Homo sapiens: one gene and its partners. The protein of the gene in region 1 purifies or fractionates together with the protein of each later gene. This does not show direct contact. Each region holds a gene or a part of one and is shown on either strand. Other genes may lie near its edges.

The links.
Region 2: the proteins of ATXN7L3 (region 1) and ATXN7L1 purify together in Homo sapiens (affinity purification with mass spectrometry; 7 studies listed by BioGRID and IntAct, with this or other methods). This does not show direct contact.
Region 3: the proteins of ATXN7L3 (region 1) and KAT2B purify together in Homo sapiens (affinity purification with mass spectrometry; 7 studies listed by BioGRID and IntAct, with this or other methods). This does not show direct contact.
Region 4: the proteins of ATXN7L3 (region 1) and SUPT3H purify together in Homo sapiens (affinity purification with mass spectrometry; 8 studies listed by BioGRID and IntAct, with this or other methods). This does not show direct contact.

The regions. Positions count from the first base shown.
Region 1 is NC_000017.11:44,196,883-44,204,362, forward strand, and holds the start of ATXN7L3 (ataxin-7-like protein 3), read right to left. Parts: upstream 3,003-7,480; 5' UTR 2,614-3,002; intron 2,488-2,613; exon of another isoform or gene 1,671-2,487; intron 1,249-1,670; 5' UTR 1,189-1,248; coding exon 1,138-1,188; intron 870-1,137; coding exon of another isoform or gene 849-869; coding exon 716-848; intron 518-715; coding exon 346-517; intron 145-345; coding exon 47-144; intron 1-46. UniProt on the Homo sapiens protein: Component of the transcription regulatory histone acetylation (HAT) complex SAGA, a multiprotein complex that activates transcription by remodeling chromatin and mediating histone acetylation and deubiquitination.
Region 2 is NC_000007.14:105,873,573-105,881,346, reverse strand, and holds the start of ATXN7L1 (ataxin-7-like protein 1), read left to right. Parts: upstream 1-4,747; 5' UTR 4,748-4,788; coding exon 4,789-4,969; intron 4,970-5,466; coding exon 5,467-5,535; intron 5,536-7,774.
Region 3 is NC_000003.12:20,148,434-20,154,930, forward strand, and holds the end of KAT2B (histone acetyltransferase KAT2B), read left to right. Parts: coding exon 1-54; intron 55-3,898; coding exon 3,899-4,092; 3' UTR 4,093-5,971; downstream 5,972-6,497. UniProt on the Homo sapiens protein: Functions as a histone acetyltransferase (HAT) to promote transcriptional activation. Has significant histone acetyltransferase activity with core histones (H3 and H4), and also with nucleosome core particles.
Region 4 is NC_000006.12:44,826,203-44,828,949, reverse strand, and holds the end of SUPT3H (transcription initiation protein SPT3 homolog), read left to right. Parts: 3' UTR 1-2,224; downstream 2,225-2,747.

The DNA of each region.
Region 1 (7,480 bases):
CCACCTCATCCCAATGCCCCCCGGGTTTCCCCAGATCCCCAAGCACCTTTCTTCTCCGAGCCATAGGACCAGTCGTTGTCATTGATGTCATCATTATCTTCTTGGTCACTCTCAGACTTATTCATATTGTTGCTATTGGCAATCCTGCCAAGGGGAGGGAAGAGAAAGGGGCCAAGGGGAAGGAAGAGAAAGGGGTCAAGGTGGTCACCCCGCTCTGCCCCCAACTTCAGAAGCAGGTGGAGCATCTGGGGCCAAGTAAAACCCACCCTCTGTACCTTCCCAATGCCCCCGGGGGACTACACCATGGCACAGGCTGCAGAGAACGGGCAGCTCTGGTTCCCTCACCGGCGGTTGGCGATTCGGCTGCTGTTCCGACCCATTCCCAGGCACTTCTCCAGATGGGGAGCAAAGCGGGAGGCGGCAATGCTGCGACTGCAATTGGGGCAAACACACTCCTTGCTCTTCCACTGGTTGAAAACCTGTCCAAAGATGTCCAAGCCCGGCTGGTCCACGATCTCTGGGGACAGGAGAGGCTGGCGATCAGGGTGGGCAGGACCCTCTCCTCTTGTTCCCACCTGGGGTCCCACGGCCTCTTCAATCCCTCCCCCGGCTCACAGGAGCTCCAGGTGCTACATCTAGCACAGTTTCCAGAGAAGGAAACTCCAGGCAGTCCCAGGGAAGGGCTGGACTGCTGCTCCTTCACCCTGAAGCTCACCAAAATCCTTCATGCTATCAGGGTCCGTGTCGTCCAAGAAGAAGTAGCCACACTTGACAGCCCGGTGTACCTCAAAGCAGAATCCCAAACAAGAATCCTCGACCAGGTCCGCGTATATCTCCTGAGCGATGGCCTGGGCCCCAGGGGAGAACATCTACGGTCACAAGAGTCACAGCCCCCTGGACTCTCACCAACCAAATCTGCTGCCAACTGGCCCCAGCCAAAAATCATGCTTTCTTTGCCATTTTCCCCATCTTGACTTCGTGTTCTTTCTTCTTCCTGGATCCTTGGCTTTTTCAGCTGGCTATTCCCTTTAAGGAACAAGGCTGACTACCCAAATTCCTCTTTGGTGTGGATGCCAGATACAGCGACGTAGAGACATCAAGAGAAAGAACTGGAGGCACACGTGGGGGAGCCCTCACCTCTAGTTTGCTGTTATCCAGGCCAGACAAAGACATTTCCTCCATTTTCATTTGTAAACTCTTGTGGAGACGGCGCTCTGACTGCTCATAGCACAGCGGGCGGCAACACGGCTGCACACACGGGGGTGGGGGTGTTGTTGTGAGTCCAAGGCACCTCTGAATGCGGCCACCTTCCCTCCCCACCTCGCTGCCCAAAGCTCAGTCCTGGCATCAGGGTCTCTCCCTCCCCAAGGCCCAGGCTCCCTAAGTCTGGATGGTCCTTCAAGGCCTGAAACCTAAAGGGGGCCTAGTCTTTCCCAGGCCTGAGCTCAGGCCCTGGACTCCACTGCCAATCAGAGTCTGGGTCTATAGGAGGCAGCAGCTCACCCTAGGTCCCCAAAACTCAAACCCCTCTTTGATACCCATGGTGCAATGCAGCAGGGGGAGGAGAAGGAACTCCAAGGCCTCAAAGCAAACCCACAGGGTGTGGCAAAGAACTGCACAGACTCCTAAATACACCCCCCGCCTTCCCTAAAGACTCTCCTCAGAGTCACCTCTGCTTTCAGCCAGGATGTCCACTTGGGGGGGTACTGCTACCAGAAGTAGAAATGGCCCTAGGACCCTACAACCTTCACCCCACTCTGTCTTCCCTTGAAATCAGCCTGCCACTCCACGAGGGGAGCAGAGCCCACAGGAGCCTAGAGCTAAGGGACATTTCTAGCCACCATGAGCAGGAACGGCGGGGGGTGGGGGGGAAGAGCCTGGTAGGGTGGCACGCCAGGAGCGGGCACTCCCCTTACCTGTTCTTCCTTTAAATAACCACCCGCCCTCCCTCAGGACCAGCCCGGAAGTCTCTCCAAGAGCCCCAAAGTCCAGGAACCCCCACCCAAGGATTCAGACACAGAACCCACAACCCAGGGCCCCTCGGAACGGTGGGTACGAGTTTCAGGAGCTGCCGGCCTAGAGTGGGGTGGGGACTGACGAATGAGCCGGGGGCACTGGGAAGGGTAGGAGGCCGGGCCTCGGCTCTTCCCCCGTCCCTGCGGCACTGCTGCTGCATCATACCGACTGGGGGGAGGACAGCCGAGCCGCCGGGGCCGGCGCCGGGCCGGGACAGACCGACCCCCAGAGAGTGGGACGCGTCCCAGCCCCTCTCCTTCCCCGCCCGCCAGCAGCCCCGGCCGGCCGGGGAGAGGAGTCCGGGAGGGTGTCTCTATTGTCCCGGGGGCTGGGGCCTGGCTCCCTAACAAAGGCCCCGCGCCCCCTCCCCGGCCGGCCCTGCCCCGCCCAAGGGGGACCCAGACGGGGGAGAGCCAGGGGCCCCGGCCCGGCCGGGAAGCTGGGGGAAGCCGGGCGTTTCCGCGTCGGCCCGGGGGGAGGGGAAGGGGCGCTGACCCAGACCTGGGGGGAGGGGGCCCAAGCCCCGCCTTGGGCCCCGCCCCCCGCCCCCCACAGGCCCCTCCCCCGTCCCCGTCCCCGTCTCCGTCCCGTACTCACCCCGCCCGGGGGGCCGCGCCGGGGCCCGGCAGCCTCTCAGGGCCGCGTCCTCCGGCGGCGGCGACGGCGGCGGCTGCTCCGGAGCCCCATGTCCGTCGGTCCGTCCTCGCCTCTCCCCGGGGCCCAGGGCCCGGGGCCGGGGGGTCGGGCCGCCCCCCCGCCTGGCCGCCTCACCGGGCGGCCATGGCCCCTTCCCCTCCCTTCTTGTCCCGTCGCCGCCTCCTCCTCCTCACCTCACCCCGCCCGCGCGCAGTCCGCGCGCCGTCCGCGCGCCCCTCCCCCCGCCCCCCACTCCAGCCCGCCTCTCCCGGGCGGGGGGTGCGGCGCGAGCCCGGAGCGCGCGCGCGTGTGCCGCGACCGGAGGATGGATGGATGGAGCGAGCGTGAACGCGAGCGTGCGCGCGCGCGCCCCTCTCCCCCTCCCTCTGCGCGGGCGCGAGGCCAAGCGCGAGCGCGCTCCAACCTCCTCCTCTTCCTCCTCCCGCCCCTCCCCAACACCCCGCCCTCCCCCTCCCTTCCTCTTCCTTCTTTCGCTTTCGCGCGCCCAGCGACTGCTCGCGCCTGCTAGAAGGGCCCGAGCGCGTGCATCTGCCCCGCGGCCGCAGCTCGGCAGCATTTGCTCCAGGGGGCGGGGACCGGGAGGGGAGGAGGGGCGCCACGCCGCCGTCCAAAGTACCGGCGGACGGGGACGGGGGCGGAGAGATGGGCGGGGCCTTCGCGGACCTCCCCGACCAATCGCAGGGAGGCCTCGGCCCGGGAGGACCAATAAGATGGGGGTGGGTGGGGCGGCGTTCAAGGTGAGGTGCGCGGTGCGCTGGGGGCGGAGACGTTTTGCCGTCCCGGCCGGCTCGGGGGCGGGGGCAGCGGGTGGCGTCGAAAGAGAGCGCCGGCTGCCAGCCGAGCCTGGGACGCCTTCCGGCCCAGGCTCCCCCGCCCTTCCCTCGGGGCTCCCCGCTCTCTCCCCCGCCACCCTCCGCTCCCCCCTTTACCCCGAGGCGTGCAGCCACTTCTGTGAAGAGGCCAGACTTGAAGTGGGGCGCAGTTAGGACCTCGGGGCGGAAAGCCTGTGGAGCCTAAGGGGCTCGCCCGCGCCTCAGTTCTCCCGGTTTCTGGGCGGGTCTCAGCCCACTCCAGGCTTGCGGACCAACAAGCGGCCGAGATGAGGGTCCGCTGCTGAGGTCGGAGGCCGAGCTGCGCCCTTCTGCGCGGAGCGCCCTCCCCGCCCCTCGTCCTAATTTAGATCCCACACCTGCTCGCCTTTCCTGCTTCCGGAACCCACGCTGGACCCCCACCCCTCCAGACAGCCTCCTTGTCACTGGCCAGATCCTTCCCCCGACCCAGTGCTGTTCCCCTGGGTGCAGCGTGTCCCTGTGCTCACGCTCTCAGTCCCTCTTTACCTTAGGAAGGGACAGGCCTTTTCCCAGCCGCGGTGGATGGCTGGATTGGCGCTTTCATCTCGGTTACTCTGTGTGTGGTGTCCTGGAACGGTTGTGTGACAGCCCTCTCCCCTCAAGAGATAAGATTAAAAAGGAGGATAGTCTGTAATCACATACTTGGAGCCATCTTTGGTTTTTAGTTTTCAGCAAATACTTATTTTTTTCTCACCGATTTCTCCCGAGAAACAGCAAACATTTATTGAGGCGATATTCCAGAGTAGTTCAGATCAGGCGTCTGATTTGAATTTAAATCGTTGGGCCTAGCAAATGAGTTTCCTGTGCCTCAGTTTCCTCTGTTGTCAGTGGGCATAATGATAGTCCTATCTCCTTGCGTTGCTGTAGTGATTAACAAGTCAGTGCATGTGAAACTCTTAGCTCTGTGTAAGTGCTTGGTAAATCTTAGCTGTTATTCTCACGGTGCTCCAGGTGCTGGGATAAAAGATGATATAAGACAGTTGTGCTTCTTCAAGAAGTTCACTGTCTTGTGGATAGATAGGTAGGATAATAATTGCAAAACAGTGTGAGGAAAACAACAGAGAGAAAACAGAGGTAGACAAAAGGAGACATCAAATGATGTAAGAGAGTTGGTCAAGAAAGGCTTCTTGGGCAGGGTGCGGTGGCCCAGGCCTGTAATCCCAGCACTTTGGGAGGCCAGGAGTTCGAGACCAGCCTGCAAAAATGCAAAAATTAGCTGGGCGTGGTGGCGGGCTCCTGTAATCCCAGGAGCTACTCGGGAGGCTTAGGCAATAGTAGTAATCCAGCTACTCGGGAGGCTTGGGCAGGAGAATCGCTTGAACCCGGGAGGCGGAGGTTGCAGTGAGCTGAGATTGCGCCACTGCACTCCAGCCTGGGCAACTGAGCGAGACTCCGTCTCAAAACAAAACAAAAAAGAAGAAAAAGAAAAACTTCTTATAGAGGGAGATGAACCAGGTGAAGGTAGGCCAAGAAGGCATTGGACATCCCCAACTGGAAGCTTCAGAAGCATGGATCAAGCTGGAACAGAGGAGTGGGTGGCAGAGCAGCAGGAGGTGAGCAGGCTGGATAATACAGGACAAAGCAAAGTAGGTGTTGAAAAGTTTGTGGGCTTTAGCCTGTAAGCTGTGAGGAGTCCTCAAGGGGAATCATTCACCAGACTTATATTTTTAGTGGATCATGCTGGAGTATGGTCTGGAGAATAATTTAGAAGCAGTAGGTTTTTTGTTTTGTTTTGTTTTGTTTTTTTAGACAGCATTTTGCTCTGTCACTCAGGTGCAATCTCAGCTCACGGCAACTTCTGCGTCCCGGGTTCAAGTGATTCTCATGCCTCAGCCTCCTGAATAGCTGGGATTACTGGCGCACGCCACCACGCTCGGCTAATTTTAGTTTTGTATTTTTAGTACAGACAGGGTTGCACCATGTTGGCCAGGCTGGTCTCGAACTTCTGACCTCAGGAGATCCGCCTGCCTCAGCCTCCCAAATGCTGGGATTACAGGCATAAACCACTGGGCCTGGCAAAAGCAGTAGGTTTTTGTTACTGATTGAGGTGTGTGGAGGAAAGGAGAGGGAGGTCTTGAAAACACCTTTACTAGGATGGGGAACTCAGGGGAGGACATGGGAGGACACAGGATGACTTCAGTCTGGGATATATTGAGGTTACTGTGGGATCAGCTGATGGAGACCCAAAAGGTGGTTGAACTCAGGTCTGGCACAGAGAAGTAAGCTAGGTCTTCAGGAACTTCAACAACATCGCCTCAACCTTTGTTTTCTCTTATCTCCCGCCTCCTTTTCAGGAATTCTTCACTCCAGTGATGCTGATCTGTTTCTTACCTAAATATGCCCAGTACATTCTGCCCTAAGGAATTTGCGCCATGGCCAGAAAATCCTCCTGGCTTCTCCCTGTTTACCTAAATCCTTCCTCATATCCCCACCCATGGCCATCCTCATACCAAACTTCTTTACAACTAGACTGTACTATTCATTCTGTGCTTGGCCTGGGCTGCTCTGTGGTGGTGACCTCTTTGGGCACGTGCCCAGTCTCCACAGTTAGCACCAGTTCATAAACACTAAGGCCTGAGCTGGTCCTGACTCTGGGTGAGGCCCTGGGGTTACAGCAACAAGCAAGAGAGACACACAAACCTTGTCCTAGCGCAGCTTACAGCCTAGCAAGGCCTGATGTGAAGGAAATAAGGCCTGAGTGTGAAGGCATTCAGGCTGCTGAAGAAACGTATAGTGTGGAGACCTTTTTTCTCAGGAGTTCAGGGAAGGAAGTGGTCTTTTAAGTGGAGACCAGAATTAACTAGGCAGAGAGAACACCATGTGTATAGGCCCTAGGAGAGAGCATGTTATGTTCGAGACATGAATGGTCAGTGTGGCTAGAGTCGGGGGAGGGCTAACGGGGGCAGCAGATCCCCAAGGGCCTTGTGGGCCAGACCTATTCACCCACTCAGCAAATCTTTCTTGATTGTCAAATGTATATCAGGCAGTTTCAGGTGCTGAGATTACTGTAATGAACAAGCAGATAAGGTGTCTTCTACTTGGGGAGATAGATAATAAACAAATACATAAACAAGAAGATGGAGGAGGCCTCTCTAGAGCAGGTGGTTGGGAAAGGCTTCTCTGTGAGAGGACATGTGAGTTGAGGCTTAAAGAATGAAAAAAAAAAATCAGGTATGTGTAGAGTTGGAGGAATAGCCATTCTAGGCAGAGAGAACAGGTGCCAAGACCCCGCAGGTAGGCATGTTTGAGGAACAGAAGAGATCACTTGGTTGGATCGTTGTAAGTGGTTAGGAAGAGCAGGGTGAGAGAAGATAAGAGAAGGAATGCGGGGGCCAAGCCTTGTAGGGCCATGGTAAGACATGGTAAATTTTCAGTACAGAAATAATCAGATTTATTTCTGAGATAATTTTGGCTGCCATGTGAAGAATGGGCTGTAGGGGGCGAGAGTGGAAGCAGGAAGACCAGCTTTAGGAGGTCTTTGCAGAAGTTGAGCAATGATGGTGGCCTGAAATAGGATGGGAGTGGCAGCTGTGGGAGCCACCCTGTGGGAGGGGTCGACAGATTTGAGACAGCTTTAGGAAGTGGAATGGAGAGGTCTAGGTGATTGAACCTCGAGGTGAAAGGGAGAGAGGAGTCAAGGCCAATACTCTGCTTTCTAGGTTGAACGACTAAGTGTTTGGTAATCATTTCGGGTCTTGAGGTATGAGATGTCTGCAAGATATCCCAGGGGATGCAAGGGTGTCTACACAGGTCTGCAGCTTGGAAGAGCAGTCTCTGTCGGCACCACCTTTCGGAATGGTTGCATATGCGTGATAATGGGAGGTTGAAGGGAGAGACATGAACACCTGGGATAAAATGAGGAAGAGCTGACACCAACAGAGTAGACCAAGAAGGCAAAAGACAAGACAAGTGTTCACCAGATGTAATGAACATGTTGGTGACCTTAGCAAGGAACC
Region 2 (7,774 bases), on another chromosome or scaffold:
GTGGTCAGGAATGGGGCTGGATCTGCCACATTCTGGGGAACAGAGATGACCTCAACCTTCAGCACCAGAGCAGTTCCAGGGAGCACCAACTGGCCAAAGTCACAGGTGAATCAGTCAAGAGTTTTAAGACAGCTTTCCCTTGAGATAACACACTCCCGTGCTGGCTGTTCTGACCCAGTCAGAATGCAAATGTTTGTGTAGTTATATTTATTAATAGAGTCCACGGTTAGCCAGGCCTGGCACATGGCTAGGGCTCTGTATTGAAACCAATAAGTAAAAGCCTGGAATTTCTATTTTCGTTCCCACTCCTGTTGCTACTGGGGGCCTTTTATCCAGTCCTGTTTTTAATCCAGCAGCCTGCAAGGGGCAGGAAAGAGGCAGGTAAAGTTGTCTAGCAAGGCAGAGTAGAAGGCACACCTGCCCTCCAGATGCCGAGAGCTTTTATAAAAGGTAACAATGTAGGTAACAAATTTCCCCCAAATTATAATTCTCAGGGAGAAAGGGTTAGGGAAATAAATTTAGAGAGAAGAGTGGCAGATGGGACAGATGGATTCAATTAAGGCAAAGAACATCAAATAATTCCAGGGATGCCTCATTCTAATGGAACATGTCATTTTCTCCTCATTGCCTCCAGGTAACTCCCAACAGTCTAGGTAGGAAGTAGGGTGCTCACACCGTGCCTCAACCACGGCAGGAGTTTAATATCCTCAAATGAGAGAGCTAACATTCCCTCTTCTCTTCTTTTCAGTAATGTGGTGAAACAGCACATGAATCAGACTAAGTGAATGCAGGATACATAATAGATGCACATTTCTACAGAACCAGGTGTTATTCAAGTTAAATAGGTATTTTCCATTGTCATTAAAACAGAACAGATTTCTTTATTTGGTCTATGGGAGACTCTCCCTTTTAATTAAACCAACCACACTGTCATTTTCCTAAGAAAGATAATAAAACAATAAAAATATTTACATCCTTTTTTCTTCCTAAACATTAATCATGAGGGGAAGAGGGTGTTTTGCCTTTGCTAGATAGTTTTATCACATAGACATTATACTAATATGCTTTAAATTACTGTTTTACAGGTCACTTTATCCTTATTAAGGATGTATTAGATTCTTGTTGCCTCTAACAGCATTTGTAATTATTTACTACCAAAAGGAATTCAATTCTGTAATAAATCGATCACCATATATAGTTGATATATGAGTATTGATATGTATATAATACATACACAGCATGTAAACCTGAACACTACTTCCAACTGACCTCAATTTTCATCCAAAGTCAAGTGTAAATGTCTAGTAGTTTGATGAGCGATGCTTTCTTTATTCTCTGCCTCTCAGTTATGCAATTTGATTGACAGTCATGTTATCCAACACAGTCATAGATGGGTTATAGTTTCAACAAGTCAGTATTATTATGTCTATAGTCAATGGAGAGACTGGAGAAGGCTTAGAGTAAAGCAACTCTACAATTATACTCCATAACTAACTGCAACAATGTAGACATACTCTGTTATCAATTAAATGTGGCAATGCCTGTGAAGTCTTCTTTTGTAGAGATGCTAAATCACTTTTAGATTCTAGCCCACAATTTACCGTACTGTGGAGTAAAATCATCCCAAATAGAAGGAAATAATATTTGGGCTGTCAGACTCTCTTCAAGGTCCTGTGTAGTAACCTCCACTTGACAGACTCTGCTGGGAAAGTAAGCTCATGTTAAAATATGGAACCACTGATTTGCTTCACTATAACTGAGGTGTCCTGACTTCTGATGATAAGCCACCTTTGATTTTTTTGAGTGGTTTACAGTAGCTCCCAGAAGAGGAGACAGCATTCTGGAAGCTCAAGTCACTGACTCCCAGCAAGTGGCCCACTCACATGGCTACTAGCAGGATTAAGCTCCTCACTGGCTGTTGTATTGAGGGCCTCAGTTCCCCACTGGCTGATGACCAGAGGCCTCCCTCAGTTACCTGCCACACAGTCCTCTCCATAAGGCAGCTTACAACATGGAAGTGGGCTTCCCTTAGAGCAAGACAGGGCATGCAAGAGAGAGTGAGAGCAACAGAAGTGACAGCAGTTTTGTACCCTAACCTCAGAAATGACATCCCACCACTTTTGCTATATTCTCTTTGTTATCAGCAAGTGACTAAGTCTAGCCCACACTAAAGAAAAGAGGATTACACAAGGGCATGAACACCAGGAGGTACAGACCTTTGGGGCCACATTAGCTGCTGCCTACACCTTCCTTGCATGCACAACAACACAGGAATAAACATCAAAATAGATAATAAATAGAGGGAAAATAGGGAAGCAGAAGGGAAAGGGAAAGTGTTCCAGCATCTAATTACTCATGCCTCAGAGCTCTCGCATTCTCTCTCCCCACCTCTAAATCTAGCCCAACAGCACACCCTCTGATCAGGTGCTCTCTTCACAGTCTCACACCTGTCTCCTCTTCTCTACCTGCATAGCACCACCAAAGTTCAGGCTTTCATCTCTTCACACCATGAATATTGCAGCACTACTTTTCTAACCAGGCTCCGTACTCCAATCTTTCTAACTCACACTTTTAACTTATCTTTATGGTACAGAAAGCCCTTCAGTAGCTCCCCATTGTCAAACAAAATCCAGACTCTTTAGGCTGCCGTTTGGTGCCTTCCATAATTTGATCCAGGCCTGGGTATCAAAATGCATCACCCCCAAGCCCCCAGTAACAATTCTCCATCCCAGGCAAACCATGCTCAACACCCAAACACACCATGTTTATACTCAGCTTGAAGCCTCTGCTAATACCATTATTCCCCCTCCCTCCGCAAGACCAGTCTTCACCTTACCATTACAAATCTTTGGCAATTTCCAAGATGCAGAGCAGAGCCCATCTTCTGTTACGCAGTTTCTGTTCACTCCTAACTAGATTTCGGTTCCTCTATGAACTGGCACAGCTGAGAGACCACCCCACCCACTGCACAGGCCAGTCCCTGTGTACCTGCCTGTTTTCCCAAGGAATCGGTAAGTTTCACAACTTCCTTCTTCCAGAGACCACCAGACTGCATCTCTGTGAGGGTGAGGATGGGTCTCACTCATCTTTCCCTCCTGACAGGAGGGCACAGCTGTTCCATGACAGGCAATATTGGTTGACTTAAGATGGACAGATGGAAGGAAGGAAGGAAGGAAGGAAATGTCAAGCCCAGGGTCTAGCATATAACAAGAGGTCAACAAGTAATACATATTTGTTAACACCACCAATTCTTACAATGGGAATTCTTCACCCAGCGACACCTTAGCTATGTAGGAGCCCTTCGAAAGAGAGCAAAGGCAAATGCAGTTTATCTGAGTCTGACACAAACAAGCCGACTCACACAAACATCACAACTAAAGGCAAATCCGCAGCTCCTCCTTCATCGCCCATCCTAACACTGGCTTAGCGATACAGGGTGCCAAGCTCAGGGAAATTATTAGATGGTTCAGCCAGGGCAGAACTCAGTCAGTACAAAGCAACTTCCAATCAGTGCGCTTCAGCTGTGACAACTTGGGAAACAGCAGTGGTGAGAGCTAAAAGGGTGCTGGCGAAAGAGAAAAAAAAATATGTCGCTTGTGGGGTGAGGGCGGTGTCCATATAGTTTAGATAATTCTAGTAAACAAAAGGATTTGTTAAAAAGAAGTAACAGAAGACTTTTTAAAGCCTTCTTTAAAGGGTGAAAATCTCAACTAAAGCACCCAACGTCCAAAATCCAGAGGAAATCTAGCGCTCCCTTTCTAGCTGGCTAGAGCAGTTAAGCCTGAAGTGAATTCTCCCAGGAATCAGATTCCTGGCCAAAGGTTGCCTGCGCAAACCCGGGCCACCCTCGTCTCACGGCAGGGAGCGCTGGAAACGGCTCAGGGGCTAGGCCCGTTAGCGTCGTCTTCCAAGAGCCGTAAATTCGCCCTCCCGCTCTGCTGACCCTGGAGCAAAGTCCATGCAGTGGTTCTCTGAGAGCCGGAGATACGCACCGCGCGGGGAACCCGGGGGTCCGGGGGCCCTAACTTTTGAGTTTTGCACGCCCCGCAGCCTGAGATGGGAAGGTAGCTCGTAGCGCTCCAAACTCACCTGCGTTTCAGAACGACATCTACCCACTGGTTTCAGCTCCTAGAGCAACAACTGCAGAATCTCCATGGTCCAAAGTCCTCCAGGAAAGAGAAGAAAGGGGTGACGGGGGTGAGGGCTGGGAGGCGAGGTCACCAGGGTCCCTTCCCTGGCTCGGGTGGGGGTGGGGGGCGCAACCCCTCACGGCTCCTCCCCACCAAGCCGTCGGGACCCCAGCGGGGGCGCCTCGCGTTGGGCGACAGGGACGCGGGGAGAGAGCGACAAGCTGGAAGCAAGGGCTGCCTGCAAAACTTTCGGTCCTCCAGCGGCAACTCTGCGGGAAAGACCACCCTTCCTTCGGCCCCGCGTCGGGCCTATCCCCGTGTGCCCCGACCCCTGCGCCCCAGGCTTGGGCGGCGCCGCTGCATCCCGGCTGCCGGGCGCGCTGCAGCCTTCGCTCTCCCGCACGCGGCGCTCGCCCGTCCGCGCTGCCCCTCCCCGGCAGGCGGGCGGCCCCGGCGGGCGGGCGGGCGCGGACTGCAGGTGCCTCTCTGCTGCCCCTGGCGGCCGCGGGCGCGCGAGCCCCACCGAGCCGGCTCCGGGAGCCCGAGCGCCCGCCCCTCCTCCGCTCCCTCTCCCCTCCTCCTCCGCCGCCCTCCTCCCATCCCGCCCTTCCTCCCTCCCTCCCCCTTTCAGAACACTCAATGTCGGAACGTTCCGAAGATGACGTCGGAGCGTTCTCGAATCCCGTGTCTCTCGGCTGCTGCTGCCGAAGGAACAGGGAAAAAGCAACAAGAAGGAAGAGCAATGGCGACACTGGATCGCAAAGTGCCCAGTCCGGAGGCGTTTCTGGGCAAACCCTGGTCCTCCTGGATCGACGCCGCCAAATTACACTGCTCCGACAGTAAGAACCCCACCACCTCCTCCTCCTTTTATTATCCTGTAACCTTTCCATTCACCTAGAGCCACTGGGAAAAAGTGTGTGTGTGAGAGAGAGAGTGGCCCCCGGTGTCCTCCATGCTTCTCCCTCTCTCTCTAAATAAATACACACAGAGACAGATCATCAATGCACAGGGAGAGGCCCGGCTGCCAGGGCTGTCTGTCTGTCTGTGCCCGGCTCCCCGTGGCAGCCCGCGGGGTGGGCTCGCAGCCCCACGGTGTTGTCCGTTTAAAAGGCTACTTTGTTGCTGCTTGCATAGTTTTTTGGGTACCTATCTGGGCCAGGTAGATGGAAACCCAGACTTGGGAGAAAATGTTGCATTGTCAATTTTTGAAAGAATTTCATATACAGTATTTATATCGATCTGTTTGCAAATAAACACTCTCCCTCCCCCCTTGACTTTGGCTTTTTTCCCCCCTTTTTTCCTTATTTTCTGTTTTCCTTTTCTTTTTCATCTGCAGATGTAGATTTAGAAGAGGCTGGAAAAGAGGGTGGAAAAAGCAGGGAGGTTATGAGGCTTAATAAAGAAGGTAAGTGGAGCTACTGGCATTTTAGTGTTAGCATGTGTGGCAGAATCTTCACAGGATTTCGAATATAATGTGAATTGTTCTGCTGGGTACAGAGTGACTAAGGCTTGTCAAAAATTGAGCACGCCCAGGTGACTACTGCTTCATGTTAACTTCTTTCAAAGTATAAATACAACTGGGGGGGGGGTAAAGGGGGGTGAGACTGTTGAAGGCAGAAGTTTACTGCACTTCAGTTGGACTCCACGTTTGAACCTTCTGATGCATATCTGCCATTCTCCTTGGGAGCATCATTGCCAAATGGTGGGGCGTTAAAATTTCTGAAATGAAGAGTGGAGTTCCCTTCACAAGCATCCCAGCCTTTCTCGTGGGTGAATGCACAACAGCTTAATGAACCCCACATGGTCAGTCATTCCAGCAGCTACTTCTCCACTCACCACTGAAAACCATTGTACATGGCAAACCTTTGCAGCAAGTTACATTTGGCCCACTTTGCATTTGGTCACAGATTGTTATGTGGCAAGCAGGGTTAGGAGCATCTGTATGTGCAGCCCCTCAGCAGTCATCATCTCTCTTTTCCCAGCATGGAAATACGGTACCTGAAATGGGACACACTGAGTAGATAGGTCATCCCAGACCAAGATATGCAAGAGAAGCCACAACCTGCTGCAATTGGGCATCAAACACATATGGTCGTCATAAATAAATCATATCCTGTTCTCATTTGCAAGCCTGCCGTATGTAACTCTGGCCTATGGGCTTCAAATGGAGCAACTCCGGGGGCCACTTGCTGCTAAGCAAATAGGTGGATTCATTTGAATTGTGATTCACTAACTGATGTCTTATAAACATAATTGGCTGAAATTGGGGGTGGGAAGATGGCACAAGGGGACAGAAGAGGTTGGTGGTATTGAAAGAGTTCAGACATAAGTAGGCCATAGGTGCATTGGTCATCCCAAATGAATGGAGAAAAGGCCATTAGATGCCAAAGAATGGTCCCCCTCATAAAAAGGGATGTCACCCTGGAAGGCAGCTGAAGCCTGCGTGGAAAGATGGAACTCATTTTATGAATCAACACTTCAGATGGTTGGTTTTCTGTGCCCAATCATTTCCTGACCATCCACTGAGAGGAAATTTTGTGCTTCAGAAAAAATAACATGAAGGTTAAAATGCGTACATATTCAAGGACAGTTCCCTAGCATAATGTTTCTGCTAATTAAGCACTTTGGGAACAAAACATTATTCTAAAGATGTTTGCTTCTAAATATCTTAGTGTGATCTTGACAGGTGTCTTCAGGATGCACGAGGGATTGATGTCAAGTGGACTTCTTACAAGTGGCAGCTTATTTGTGTTAAATGTTCATGTGTGTTGGCAGTGGGAAGCATCACTAGAGATTATTTTTCTTCACACACAAACTCTTGAGATCTCTAAGTGCTTGCAAGACCCAGTTATCAGGCTACTGGCAACGTGTCCATAAAAGATGATGAGGCTGTGGAAATCTTTAAATTAAAGTTGAGTAAAGGTCATGGTATAGCACAGGATTGTCACCTCTCAGGTCTGGGTGATGCGTTATGACTATCACACACAAAACTCACATCCTTTCCCCCCAGTCCCTGTTTCTATTTCAGAAGACTGTTGTTCTCAGATTCTCTTTGCCTCATGAGAAACAGATTTTTTTTTTTTTTTTTTTTTTGATACGGATTCTCACTCTGTCGCCAGGCTGGAGTACAGTGGTACGATCTTGGCTCACTGCAACCTCCGCCTCCCGGGTTCAAGCGATTCTCCTGCCTCAGCCTCCTGCATAGCTGGAACTACAGGCACGTGCCACCACACCCAGTTAATTTTTGTATTTTTAGTAGAGACGGGGTTTCACCATGTTGGCCAGGATGGTCTTGATCTCTTGACCTCGTGATCTGCCCACTTGGCCTCCCGAAGTGCTGGAATTACAGGCATGAGCCACCGTGCCTGGCTGAGAAACGGATTCTTTTAAGAAAAAATGAAAAGCTCTCCTTTCCTCAGAAGTCACAGGTGGTACATCCCGCTTATTAGGTCCTTTGTCCTATAAAGGTACGAAGATTTAGCTCCTAATTATACATATTTGCATTAAGGACACCCACTGTTCAGTGTAACTTGAAATTGCTAACTTCACCAAAATAGCCATATATGGGCTGAAATCTCTTTGTTCACAGGCCTGGTGGAACAGACTTGGGTGAGCAATTCCTGATGGTCTTTCTGGTATATATG
Region 3 (6,497 bases), on another chromosome or scaffold:
CTGTGAAGAGAACAGAAGCTCCAGGATATTATGAAGTTATAAGGTTCCCCATGGGTAATACCATTAACATTTTCTAAGTATAGATTTAAAACTCTGGATGGCGGTGTGGGGGACAAATGGTTGCTGAGGTTGATTTGTACTCCTCTGCTTAGGGTAGGAAGTGTATGACGGGTGGTGGGATTCCATGCACCGTGGCGGGTCAGTGATGGCAGAGAAGTGGGTGGCTGTGTTCATTAGAGACATTCTGCAGCTGTCGTTTAGAGCCCACATGAGCTTAACGACACTAGACGCAGAAAATCCACGGTAACTGCAGACAGCACTAGATTTGAAAGCTGGCACTTTAGATATAACTTTGCTTATATTCTAACTCTTTGGTGCAAATAGAAAAACATCAGCTTATCCTCTTGATATGCTTTGCGTCTGTCGTAAATAGGTATTCCTTTGAATAATTATTCAGGATAATAATGAAAGAAGTTAGATTAAAGTACTTGACTGCTGTACTTTCAGAGGGAGAAATTCTACTTACCACAATTCTTGATTTTCCATGCCCTTGATGGGTACTGTTAATGTCACTGTATATACTCTTTATTTTACGCTTTGTCTCATATCCAAAATCAAACAAAAAAGGATGTCTTCAGAAATGTAGAATTGTGCAGTTTGGTGCTGTGCCCACACCACTCTAAAATTAATGATTAATTGAATCATTTGAGGTCGCTCAAATTAAACTAATTTGGCATTGTGTGGGTGACAACCAGTTGAAATGTTTTCTTTTTATCAGCTATGTGGCCATATTTTTGGAGAGAGCCAGAGTCTTCTGTCTCTTTTCTACCTGTAATCTATTCCAGGTGCTAAGAACTGTGAAAGTCCAGCTTGGGTAATGTAGTGAGACCCTGTCTCTACAAAAAGTAAAAAATTAGCCAGGTGCAGTGGCACACGCCTGAGGCCCCAGCTACTTGGGAGGCTGAGGTTGGAGGATCACTTGAGCCTGGGAGTTTGAGGCTGTAGTGAGCTGTGATTGCACCACTGCACTTCAGCCTGGGCACTGGAGGGAGACCGTATCTCAAAAAAAAAAAAAAAAAAAAAAAAATTGTGGAAGTGTTAAAAATGTGAAAAGGAAGAGTGAAAGGGACGCATTAGCTCCTTGAAAACTGAGTTATTTACAGGTGTTTTCTATAGCATTTAAATGTTTCACATGAATATTTTATATATTTGTAGTAATGATTTCAGTAGCCTACACCCTTTAAAGTGAACACACATCTATATGCTTTTCTTTCTCTCTTCTCTCTGACTTACCACTATTTATTTCAGTACAAGAAAATAAAGGGTATGGTTGACTCAGTCTAGAATTCTGAATGGAAGGCTGATTTGGGAATCAATATTGTCCACTATGTGCAAAATATGTTAAAACTCTTTGTGTCCATTTCCAACCATAAATTAACTGATTTTTGCATCCTCTTCCTCTGGACCATCTCAGCTTCTTTTGGGAAACCCCCATGGGAAGCTGTGTGACTTTGGGGCCCTTTCAGCCCCTGTGCACATGCACTCTGATGACGTGCAGCGATAGGTCTAGCAGATCTCGTCGATCATAGCCTACTTGCAGCCTGCTTTCTGAAAGTGTTTTGCTTGGTCCCACCCGTGAAGGTTGTGAACTTCTCCAGTTGGATACCACCTGTATGCATAGCTGAGTCTCACAAGGGGGGAAACTGACCTAATTGAGCAAGGCCAGTGATGGGCTGAAATGTGTGCTGGACAAAGTTAAAGCTATAAATGGTGTTCTTCAGTAGGGCAGTATTTTTTTTCTTGGTATTGTTCAGATGCTGAGTAAAATATTTAGTCTTGTCCCCAAGATTATCTTGTATTTGAAGACAAGATTGACAAATCAGTAATTTTACATTTTCCCACGATTTCCTTATTTGATTTTTCTAATAACATTACTTTTCTTTCCCCATATTCTGAAAAACTGTTTCTCTCATATGGATGGGATCTAACCTGTTTTACTTAGGGAGTCACACACTGGACATCAGCTGTATAGTCTGGCCCAAGCATGACTTCTTGTTACCCATGGATGGCTAGGCAGGGTTTTGCTGCTTACCCAGAATTCCCAAGTTAAGGGGAAAGGACATGAAAACTGAATAATTTAATGGTGTCTCTATATTTGGTACCACCAATATTTAGTCACCTTTTTTAACCCACCTCATTTTGTCAATTGAAAAAACTCTACGAAGGCCAGAGGAAGAAGAATGCTATCTATAGCTTTAGAATAGAAAGGAAGTATTCAGAATTGGTTATAGTTATTCAGAAAAGTCCAGACACCGCCATAATTCTTGCTTTGTTTCTGCTGCATTTTAGGCTCTCTCCATCTTTTCTTACCCATCTCCTAAAAAAGTTCGAAAAGCTTTTGGACAAACTTCTTTGTGTCGTGTCATCCTTTTACTCCCCCTCCCCCTTTTTGGGGGGTACATGTTTCTTCCTTTTAAAACATTATACATATTATATTGGGCAGCATATCTTAAGTGGTAGACATTTAGGTGGAAAAGTGAAAGGAATGTAAACATCTACTTTTACTTAGGGCCAATTTCATTGTTTTTTTCTTCTTTAAATGAGAGAACATTTTGATCTGTTCAGTCACACTTGGATGGGACATTTAGTGTGAGATTTGATGAGTCTTTGTGTTTCTTAGCGCTTTTAGATTTTTATCTCTCTCCAAACTGTTTTAGAGAAGAAAGAAAAGTTGAAAGTTGAATTTACAGATGTGATGACATACACTCTAACCAAGATAGGCTTTATTCAAGAGATAGGCAGAAGCAGCTTTTTTCCATTTCTTCTTTGATGCTTTTGTGGTGGATTTAGGATATTGATGCAAATGAATTCCTTCCCATTTGGGGATATTGTACGTACATTTACTTACCTTATTAAATGATGATCCCAATGTATTTGGTTATAGGTTTCTTTCCCCCTGGAAATTTTATAACATACTTATAATTTGGGATATTGGTAGTCAGAAGTGGGGTTTTTTTTTTCCCATTTGACTTATTTTTCCACACATAGTTAATACAATTATAGCTTTTAACAATAAAGCCAGACTTCAAGACAACCAGGGAACCATAAATAGACAAATGTTAGCGTCTATTCTAATCTGCATAGAATTCCTTAAATTAGTCCTGACAGTGAGGATTGAAGAAACCCTACTTTAGTTTTATCAGTTTAGATGGAGTACTGTTTTCACCTGTAAAATACTACAATTTAAAGCAAGTAGCTATATTGGGAAATATTCTTTGCAATAGTCTCACAAGGCTTACTTGCTTTAGAAAATAGATTATTAAATGAAGTTTGTTATTCTTATTTCATTGATGGAGCTTGAAGCAAATTCATTTGAATCATTTTACATGCAAGGGCACTGGTGTGTTCACAGATGTATTTATTATCAGTTTCTCTATATGACACCAAAACAACTGTGAGTTTAGTGAAACAAATGCAGTCTGATTGTTTTAAGTAATTAAATGATTGAATACAAACGTTCCACCTGCTCTACTCCATATAGATAGAGCCTCTTCTGTATAATTCTGACTGAATAGCTAACAGTAGTCAGTTCATCATACTTATTGTTGCTAATCTACTTAGCTTCCTTGTGCTGAATAGGGGATTGAACCAGATGACTAATAATGGTCCCTTTAATGCTAAAATGGCTGTGATTTTACATTTTTAAAAAACCCACAAAAGAATGAACTTAAGATTTAAGAACTGTTTTCCTTGGTCATAAGAATTTCTCTTAAATAAAAGCATTGGGATGATAAAAATGTAATCAAACCAACAACATAGATTCCTTTCCCAGTCCCAGTTTTGTCAGCTGGTGTTTAAAGGGAGTCAAAGATTGCTAATATTTTTTTTTCCTGTGCAGATCTGAAAACCATGAGTGAACGCCTCAAGAATAGGTACTACGTGTCTAAGAAATTATTCATGGCAGACTTACAGCGAGTCTTTACCAATTGCAAAGAGTACAACCCCCCTGAGAGTGAATACTACAAATGTGCCAATATCCTGGAGAAATTCTTCTTCAGTAAAATTAAGGAAGCTGGATTAATTGACAAGTGATTTTTTTTCCCCTCTGCTTCTTAGAAACTCACCAAGCAGTGTGCCTAAAGCAAGGTGGTTTAGTTTTTTACAAAGAATTGGACATGATGTATTGAAGAGACTTGTAAATGTAATAATTAGCACTTTTGAAAAAACAAAAAACCTCCTTTTAGCTTTTCAGATATGTATTTAAATTGAAGTCATAGGACATTTTTATTTTATGGAATAGATTTTAATCTATTTACTACTATTAAGGTAAATTTTCTATGGCATGTCCATTAGCTATTTCATGATAGATGATTAGGGGTTTCCTCAAAACCTGTGTGTGAGGAAATTGCACACAGTAGCAAAATTTGGGGAAATCCATAACATTTTCAGACCATGAATGAATGTTTCCATTTTTTTCTAATGGAATGTGAGAGTTTACTTTTATTTTATTCTGAAGGACTTTAAGGAAGGGATACATGATTTTAAAAAAGCCTGTAAGAGGTGAAATATGTGATGTTTGAAGTCTCTTTATAGACTTTTTATATATATTTTTTAAAACACTCATCTAGATGAGGTGCTTTGAGCAGTTCTGAAAAATGCAGTTCCAGGAAAGCAACTGCTTTGGTTCCTAAGGAAGAAATTCTAAATAATGCAAACTTTTAAAATAAGCATCTAGGTTTTTGATAATTCTGTCTACTTACAACAAACTTGTTAGTACATAACCACTATTTTAATAATTATTTTCTCTACACAAATGTGTAATATCATATTTGACTTTGCTTATGCAGGCCATAAGTTCCAAAAGATAATTTCCCTGCCCACAAAGGCATAAACTTGAAAACACATGAGATTGAATCAACATGCTTTAATAGGAAAAGATGTATGGTCTATATATGTATCAATCTGGTGAATCCTCGTTCTAATAAAGGTTCTTTTTCTTTTCTATGATACACACAGCCACGCTGATAATATGCAAATGAACATTTTCCTTTATGTCTCTCCAGATAATGTTTATTGTCTGAGGTAAATTAAATTCCCACCAGGGTTTGCTGTCAGTATTTTAACACCCACATTAGTATATGCGTCCAGGGTCATAACCCCCTAAAATCCATCATGCAACCTTATTAATCTGTCTTGGGATTCCAGTTTAGTGCTTGGATTTATTTCCTGATTACACTACATAGAAAAGTGAGACATCTGCCATTCCCAACTCTGGGAAAACCAACTAATATACAACCATATAAATGAAGGCCATCTTGATGGTCTCAACACTAATTTTTATGATGCAAATTTATACACTGATTTTTGTAAAGGACAAAGTTTTAAAAGCGTATTTAACTTGATGTTTTCTATCAGCATAAATAAAATGGTCATGAATAGTCATTAAAAACAGTTGCCAGTGATAATCTGCATGAAGGAAAAAGAACCCTGCAAATGGCTATTGAGTTGGAAGTATTGTTTTTGATATGTAAGAGATATTCAGAATGCTCACACTGAAAATGCCTCAACTTTTTAAAGTGTAAGAAACCACCATGAGTGGTGTCTAGATTTCTAATGAAGAATCATGATACAGTTTGGATTAAGTATCTTGGACTGGTTTTAAACAGTGCTTTGTACCGGATCTGCTGAAGCATCTGTCCAGCTGGTATCCTGTGAAAGTTTGTTATTTTCTGAGTAGACATTCTTATAGAGTATTGTCTTTAAAATCAGATTGTCTCTTCTATATTGAAAGCATTTTTATGTTTTCTAATTTAAAAATTAATATTTTCTTATAGATATTGTGCAATAAAGCTGAAGTAGAATGTGTGGTTTTTGCAAATGCTTTAACAGCTGATAAAAATTTTACATTTGTAAAATTAATATATTGTACTGGTACAAAATAGTTTTAAATTATATTTTAAAAAGCTTCCAATCTTGTGGTGTGTTTTATTCATTCAGTAGGCTGAGGTTAACAGAACAAATTATGATCTGGTTGATAACCATCAATTGAATCCTTAAACCTTAGATCTTAAGCATTCTGTTGCATTTGGGGGAGGTTTCATAAAAAATCCATAGGTCATCAGTAAGAGATTTTCAGGAGAGACACTTACTCTGTCTTTTGAGTTATCCACTGCATCTTACCCACTCACCCGCTAAACAATAACAAAAAAGATTCATTGAAAGAAGAGTGTTGTTGGTTTAGAAATTAAAAGATTTTTGTTTTTATACTTTGCATCTGTGAAATATATATGATGAGAGAAAAATACAGCCGATTTTTAAACATCTCCCATATGAGCTTCTAATGTGATTCAAAATGATGTCTGTAGGAAAGAATACTATATCCTTTTGGGGTTTGAGAGGACCCAACCAAGAGAACCCCTCTTCCCTACTGAAATCTAAACCAACTGAGAAGTTAAAAAAAAAAAAAAAAGGCATATGATGGCCAAAGTATTACCTTT
Region 4 (2,747 bases), on another chromosome or scaffold:
TATACTTTCTCCAGTAAATGAGGAACCGTAACTCTTTGGAACAAACCAAAATATAGCAGATGTAATTGTACAGTTCCTGATTAAACTTCAGTTGCAAAAAAGAAAGTTATTTCTTTAATTCTGTGGGAGTTTTGTATAATTTTACTTTTATGGTTTTTACACATACTTGAAACACTCTTTCTAAAGAATTAATAAAAACAGAAATGAGAAACATGAAAGATCTTTTTCTTGATACTGCTCCTTTTTCTTGATACTGCTCAAGAGAGCAAGCCTCTCTTGATACTGCTTCCTAGATTTAAGGGTAAAGAAAGTAGAAATAGTTCTCCCTTCACCCAAATTTGGAAGTATAAAACTTTCTGAACATGCCATTTAGAGGTTATGTCATTAGCTTTCCTGCCTTCTTATATTGTAATAGTTGCGATTCAAAAACACTGTTTCAATTTTAAATTCAAGACTTTTTATTTGAAAACCATCAGACTCAAAGAATTATGAGGCTCAGTTAATATTATTATGCCACATTATTTACATTTGTTAACTGTCATTTACCTGCTCTATGTTAATCTTTTTAGAAAAAATTTGCATTTCAGAAACAAAAAGCACGGATAGATATATAATATCAAAATATTCCCAAAGGATTTTGATGTTCCATCTATGCTTGTTAAAATGTATGATTATGATTAAACTTTTTATCATTCTTATTTTCCTTGGCATCCATAATCATGGAAAATTACAAGCTTGCAGTAAACATCCTAACTTAACTTAACTTTTAAACGATAGCATTTATTGTATTTGGTTTTGATCTGCCAGGCTTATAGATGGTATAAAATTTTCAGGGGATAATTTTTCACATCAAAATTCCTTCTCTCCCACATTATACATTTTAAAGTATGCACAAGGCAGAAAATATAGGGTTTGGGTTTTTTTCCTTCGTTTTATTCCACCTGATCTCCTTATAGTCCCAGAGAAGGAAGACTCAATGTACATTTCTCTCAGAAATATGACAGGTCTGTGTTTTTGTTGGTCTGGCATATGTTTGTCTATCTTGAACAGTCTGACAGGTAATTATTTATAAAATCTGGTTTTGCCCAGTAAGTTCATATAAAACCTTTCATTTTTCATCATAAGCCAGTAAGCTGAATTTAGAATAAAGCAAGGTCATTTATGTCTGTCCTGAACCAGCCTACATGTCCCCATAATTGCTCAATATTTTTAATTCCCTTTTCTATTTTTTATACTTAGGTTCTTTCTCTGACTCTTTGCACAATACTAAATTTGAAGTGAAATAAAACTTCCTTCAGCAGTGACTATAGAAACAAAAGAAAATTTACAGAAGGAATGTTTAAGAAAACTTCAGTAAATTATTTTCTCAATAATCATAATGTTAGAGCAGAAGATAGTCTTAGAGATCATTAAGAACAGCTGCTCATCTTGCAAATGAAAAAACCATGGCCTAGAGAGGGAAAGTGAGTTTCCTAAGATCACTCAATAATGTAGTGACAGACCAGAGATGAGAATCGATGGTCCCTAATTTTCAGTCGGTATTATACAGTATTTTCTACCATACTGGGTTAGCATAAGAATATTACTAAGACATGTTGGGGTTTTATGGCATATTTATCCTAGACAACGATGTAAATTTATTTAAAAACTGTACTAATTATGGATACATCCTAAAGCATACGTGTTATATAGTAAAATCTTCAGTGTGACTGTGGTATTAAGTAAACAGTCTGTTATCTTACACATCAGGCTTAACTCTAAGTCAAATGGAAATATACAAAGCTAGTTTCTATTTTTTGTCCCTTGTATTTTAGAGACTGAATTTGAAAATAAATAAGCCAATAAATAAATAGCGTCTCTTGATACTGCTTCCTAGATTTAAGGGTAAAGAAAGTAGAAATATTTCTCCCTTCACCTAAATTTGGAAGTATAACTTTCTGAACGTGCCATTTAGAGGGTTATGCCATTAGCTTTCCTGCCTTCTTAGATTGTAATCGTTGTGATTCAAAAATACTGTTTCAATTTTAAAACCAAGACTTTTTATTTGAAAACCATCAGAAGCACAAATATTTTTTAAATGGTGTATATAATTCCTGTATCTGGGGAGAACCCTTCATTTATTGCTGTTCTTTGTTTTTATAAAATAATAAACAAGCCATGTCTGATGCTTTTACCATGTAGAAGACAAATAAACATAACTGGTGATTCTTGGTCTGAAAGAAAACATGTTTACTTGTTTAGAATTAATTATAAAGTTTAATTTTATGAATTTTTTTACGTAGTTCTCAAATCAGGCAATGCTTTCCAGTTCATATAACCTCTTGTGTAAAACTGAATCACTAAAGAGAACATATTCTCTCATCTGCCCCCCTGGAATTTGGATAGAACCTTTCCAGGCTACATTTAAAATTCTACCATCAACCATGTATACATCTCATAAAATATTTTACAGTTTCCTGTATGCTCTGGCCGAACATTTCATAGTACATAAACACTCTGCAAATAATCTAAGGGCATCAAGTTGAATATGTCATAGCAGTGGCCACTACAAAGAGCTAATTCTCCAGCAACACAGTTTCTTATTTTTACCTTCTTATTTGAAACTCAAGATGAAACTTTACATGCTATTGTTGTACAGTGGCAGGGGTGAGAAGAGAGCAGGGAACTCTAGCAGTTTTTGTGGAATTGTGTTCATTAAAGCAAAGGCTTTCTGCAGAGGGCATCTAGCCAAGCTTAAACAACAAAAC